2 separate regions of the Homo sapiens genome follow, and region 2 is linked to region 1. Evidence: fine-mapped expression QTL. A gene starts in region 1. The other region holds a variant in brackets. All regions are shown on one strand. Distances are between the middles of the regions.

The links.
Region 2: its variant is fine-mapped to the expression of TIGD7 in adrenal gland (GTEx, PIP 0.99).

What each region holds. Positions count from the first base shown.
Region 1 is chr16:3,304,049-3,306,953 of GRCh38, forward strand. It overlaps TIGD7 (tigger transposable element derived 7), which reads right to left and starts at 1,382. Exons shown (of 2, transcript NM_033208.4): 1 at 1,164-1,382. ZNF75A (zinc finger protein 75A) reads left to right here and starts at 1,449. Exons shown (of 7, transcript NM_001302109.2): 1 at 1,449-1,595. RefSeq lists an enhancer at 943-1,472.
Region 2 is chr16:3,219,569-3,222,473 of GRCh38, forward strand. ZNF200 (zinc finger protein 200) reads right to left here. Exons shown (of 5, transcript NM_198088.3): 5 at 2,757-2,905. Among named protein-coding and RNA genes, the nearest start is that of ZNF200, 14 kb to the right of the region's middle. The variant T/C (reference allele first, on the strand shown) is at 1,453.

The sequences.
Region 1 (2,905 bases):
GATGGTCTCGATCTCCTGACCTCATGATCCGCCCGCCTCGGCCTCCCAAAGTGCTGGGATTACAGGCGTAAGCCACCGCGCCCGGCCAGGATTTACTTTCTTAAATGCACTCTTTTCATTCCCATTCAAAGGACTCCAGTATAAGTGCCACATAAACTCGTTTTCTAACTTTTAAAACTCTTCCTCTAAATGCAGCCCAACTCAGTAAAAACGTACCTAAGATCTCACAGTCTAATGTTTCCAGCTTTTAAAGCCTTTACTCCTACCCTTCCCTCTGCCTGGAAAGTGTCTCCATTCCCTGCTGTGGACAAAATCCCTCAAGGTCTTTTATAATTTCCCCCAACCCCAAATCAACTTGGATTTTCTTGGAGTTCTCACAGCATTCAGTTTATGTCCTATTCTTACCCTTGTGTTACTGATATTCACGAAATTGCTCAGTCCTTTCAAGAGATTGCTTAAGGACAAAGACTTCTTACTCAACTCTGCAATATTGGCTACACATAGCTGACTTAATAAATAGTCCCTTGACTGGTATAAGCTGACGTTACAAAAACTGGTAATTCCGAAACCACTCATACTGGACTTATTAAATAATCCCTCAACTGGTACAGACTGACATTACAAAAACGGATTAATTCAGAGATCACTGAACACCCAAAACACTCAGATTCTTATAACTATGATTCAGTAAATATGTGTGGAATGCCTATCTTACCAGGTGACTATGTTAGGCGCTGCATGAGATATAAGATGAAAACAAGGTTCCCATTTTCCAGGGAAGAATACTGGAGTGGAAAACGCAGAGGATACCACAACAGGAGAGCTATTTCCGATTAGCGGCCGCCACTGCTGAGCTATGTGACCCTGAGCAAGTCACTTCTTAGGTCTCCGTTTCTCTGTCAAGGAGAGATAGAAAAAGAACCTATTTCACAGGTTCAAACCTACCTCAAGAAAAAATAGTTGTGGGGAATGCGTCACGAGACCTAGAAAACGGTACAAAACCCTCGGGGGGCCGCTGTTTCTGACCTAGCGAGTGGCCCGACCCGGACAAAATGCCTCTTCCTCGAGGAGGCGGCGACGAGCCCAGCAACAGCTCGAGCACGGCCGGCCGGGCCGCGGGAAGCCCGAGAACGCGGCGCGCGCAGCTGGGAGGCGACCCTTACCCGGCGAGGCTCCCGGGACCAAACGCCGCCCGACAGCCACGCAGAACAGACGCGGCAGTGCGACGCCTCCCCCACTGGGGACACGAGACAGCGACAGCCACGCGGTGAGCCGGTACAAGGCCCTCTAGGCTTCAGCGGGTCTGGATACTCGGTGGCATTAACCCTTCCCTACCGCCGGGGAAGACAGCAGTTTCTCTGGCGAGGAAGTAGGCCGGGCTCAGGCGCCTTAGCCAGAGGGCGGGCCTGCGCCACCCTCGGAAAGCGTCACTTCCACTTCCGGCCGGCGCTCTGGCTCTGTACCTGGACAGGGCTGCGGTAGGCCAGCGGTGGGCTGGCGGTTGCGCTCCTCAGATCGGCGGCCTTTCGGGCGGTGGCTTGCGTTTGAGCCTCAGAAAGCGAGGAGCGGCCTCCACGGAAGCCAAGCTGGCCGAGGTAACCGAGAAGCGGCTTCCCCTATGGCTTCGACCCTGGAGCCGCTGGAGCGGCGGCGGCCGCAGGGAGGCAGCCATTTTCCGTAGGCGGTGGCCGCGGCGCTTCCGGGCCGCGCGGCTGGAGCCTGAGGCGGGGCCACCGTCGGGCACGAGAAACCATTCTCTCCCCGCTTTTCGCAGCTGTATCCCAGAGGCGCGGCTGAAGCTCGCTGGGACACTGCCCGCTTGCCCAGTGCCCACGGGCACGCCTGTCGCAGACACAGGCTGTGGCGAATCCGAGTGCTGGCGGGCAGCAGTGCCTGCAGCTGCGCCCGCAGACTCTTTCCCGCCTCCGCCGGCATTTCCGTGTCCGGCCGATGTCATGCGGTCGGTTGAGCCTCAGGGCTAGCAGCTTCTACTGATGCAAAAACATAGGAAGTGTCTCTTTGCTTCTGGAACCGGGGTGGGCAGCAAGGAGCTGGCCACTTCTTTGAATACCGGTGGCATCCTGGGCAGAATTTCGGTGCCGTTTCTGCTGGCTCACTTCAGGAAAAGTGAGGCTCACGGCTCTCCTCAGCCCCCCTTAGAAGTCTAAATGACCTTTGGAGAAATACAAAGTCAGCAGAAAGTTTCACTTTCATCGTCACCAACTCCTGTTGGAGTTGATATTTCATAAACATCAGCGACAGAAAGAAAATACGACTTGATATTTTGTAAATAAAATATCCTTTTTTACAAGTTGATATTTTGTAAACAGAGGTCAGCTGTAATTTTCTCCAGATCAAGTAAGCACAGTTAAAAATTCATATAGGCCTGGCGCGGTGTTTGACGCCTGTAATCCCAGCACTTTGGGAGGCCAAGATGGGTGGATCACGAGGTCAGGAGATCGAGACCACCCTGGCCAAGATGGTGAAACCCTGTCTCTACTAAAAACACAAAAATTAGCCGGGCATGGTGGCACGCGCCTGTAATCCCAGCTAGTCGGGAGGCTGAGGCAGGAGAATGGCTTCAACCGGGGAGGTGGAAGTTGCAGTGAGCTGAGATCACGCCACTGCACTCCAGCCTGGGTGACAGGGCGAGACTCCATCTCAAAAAAAAAAACAAAATTCGTATAAATCATCTGCATGGCACCCTTTATGTGTGTTGCAAAGAATGATGAGCATCTTGTTGCTTACTTGGGAGACATTGTCTGAAAATAGGCTACTTTTTTACTTTCTGTAGTACCCCCTCCCCCCACTGTATCTGGGTTTCACTTACCCGCTGTCAACTGCCATCCAAAAAATATTAAATGGAAAACTCCAGAAATAAACAGTTCATAAGTTTTAAATAACT
Region 2 (2,905 bases), 84 kb before region 1:
CAGCACTTTGGGAGGCCGAGGCGGGTGGATCACGAGGTCAGGAGATCAAGACCATCCTGGCTAACACGGTGAAACCCCATCTCCACTAAAAATACAAAAAAATTAGCTGGGCGTGATGGTGGGCGCCTGTAGTCCCAGCTACTCGGGAGGCTGAAGCAGGAGAATGGCGTGAACTCGGGAGGTGGAGGTTGCAGTGAGCCAAGAACGTGTCACTGCACTCCAGCCTGACCGACAGAGTGAGACTCCGTCTCAAAAAATAAAATTAATTAATTAATTAATTAGGGAAATTTTTAGCCATTATTTTTCCAAAATTTTTTCCTCTCCTTTCTCTCTTCTTCTGGTACTCCCATTGTGTGTATTTGGTGCACTTAATGATGTCCACATTTCTTTGAAGTTATATTCACTTGTCTTTTTTTTTTTTTTTTGAGATGGAGTCTTGCTCTGTCACCCAGGCTGGATCTCCCCTCACTGTGGGTTCAAGAGATTCTCCTGCCTCAGCCTCCCAAGTAGCTGGGACTACAGGCACTCTCACACTGTCATGCTGGAGTCAACCTCCCATTTACTCTGATTTTTTTTTTTAAAGAGATGAGCCCAGCGCTTTGGAAGGCCAAGGCAGGGGGATCACTTGGGCCCAGGAGTTTGAGGCCATCATGGACAACATAGCAAGACCGCGTTTCTAGAAAAATAAAAATAAAAAAATTAGCTGGGTGAGGTGGCATGTCCCTGTAGTCCCAGATACTTGGGAGAGTTAGGCGGAAGGATCTCTTGAGTCTACGAGTTCAGGGCTGTAGTGAGCTATGATCACAGCTCTGTACTCCAGTCTGCGCAACAGAGTGAGACCCTGTTTCTTAAAAAAAAAAAAAAAAAAAAAAAAAAAAAAGATGTGGTCTCAGTAAGTTGCTCAGGCTGGTCTCTAACTCCTGGATTCAAGGAATCCTCCCACCTCAGCTTCCAAAGTAGCTGGGACTACACGCACATGCCACCATGCCGTCTTGATAATGTTTTTTAAATTTTAAAAATAATTGTTTTTTGAAATGGTATCTCACTCTATAGCCCAGGCTAGAGTGCAGTGGCATAATCTCGGCTCACTGCAACTCCACTTCCCGGGTTCAAGCAATCCTCCTTCCTCAGCCTCCTGAGTAGCTGGGACTACAGATGCCTGCCACCGCAACTGGCTACTTTTTGTATTATTAGTAGAGATGGGGTTTCACCATGTTGGCCAGGCTGGCCTTGAACTCCTGACCTCAGGTGATCCACCTGCCTTGGCCTCCCAAAGTGCTGGGATTATAGGCGTTGAGCCACTGCACTCAACCAAATCTTTTTTTTTTTTTTTTTCGTAGACAGGGTCTCACTATGTTGCCCAGGCTGGTCTTGAACTCCTGGCCTCAAGCCATCCTCCTGATTCGGCTTCCCAAAGTGCTGGGATTACAGGTGTGAGCCACTGCGCCTGGC[T/C]TATTTTCTGTAGTTACTACTGGAATTGGATCTTTGGTCTCTTACATTTTCCAACTCTCGCTCTACCGCTATATTGGGAAACTGTTCACTGTTGTTTACTTTTTCAACTTAACTGGTGATCAGGCTCCTTAGGTAACAGAACTTACTCATCCAACAACTTCCCAGGGGCTCTCGTGTTTGGGGGCGGCCCCTGGTCCTGGTCGGGGCGCTCCTCTCATTCCCACCCAGCCTCACTATTGCGGAAGGAAACCCTGCGGCCCATGTCCTGCCCTCTGGGACACTGGGTGCTGATTGACGGCAACCCTGACCGTGGGCACCTCCCCAGTCCAGGAGATGGTGTGGGTTGTGGTGGCTTCACCCACCTACACTTAAAAAAACAAAAAGCTACTCAGGAAGCTGAGGCAGGAGGATTGTTTGAGCCTAGGAGGTGGAGGTTGCAGTGAGCCAAGATCGTCCCACTCCAGCCTTAGCAACAGAGCCAGTCTCAACTAAAGAAAAAAGTGTCTCAGGTACCGTGCCATGGCTTCATGAGAACTGATGTAACCCCCGACTCTGGGCAGGGCTGCCAAAGAGTGAGAGAGTGGAGACTCTCTCTCACCACTCACTTCCTGGCAGCTACTTTTCTGGATGCATGGGCAGGTCCCCTACACATGAGATGGTGTGGGTTGTGGTGGCTTCACCCACCTACACTTAAACGAAAAGCTACTCAAGAGGTTGAGGCAGGAAGATCGCTTGAGCCTAGCAGGCGGGAGGTTGCAGCGAGCCAAGATCACCCCACTCCAGCCTTATCAACAGAGCCAGTCTCAAAGAAAAAATTAACTGTCTCGGGTACTGTGCCATGGCTGCATGAGGACTGATAAAATACCCGACTCTGGGCAGGGGTACCAAAGAGTGAGTGGAGACTCTCTCTCACCACTCACTTCCTGGCAGCTACTTTTCTGGGTGCACAGGCAGGTCCACTGCACATGGTAACAGCCTGCCGACTCTGGAAACACAGTTCAGGATCCCAGTCCTAGTGCACTGGTCAGACTTTCAAATAAGCGAATAACGTTGTGGGCAGCCTGTTTTGTTCGCTTTGCTGGCTTTACAGGGTACTTCCTGTTGGCCTGAAATACAATGTTGGTAAAGACAGTTTTTCTGTGGCCTTTCTCTGTTGTGGAGGATTTGTTGTTTTTAAATTACGATTCAGGACTGAACTGTATCATAGAATGTCCTTCTTTCAGAATGCTTTGTGCCAAAACAAGAAACCTCAGAATTACATGTTAATAACAACAAACAAAACAAAAAAGACCAATAGGCAGAAGGCAAGAAACAAAAACTATTCTTTGTAGATGGTGTCATTTTACCAAAAGTTAACAGAACTAAACCAACAAACTATTGAAAATTAACAACAGTGAGATGACTATACAAATATATAATTAAAAATAACTTTCCCATGTAAAAGCAATAATCA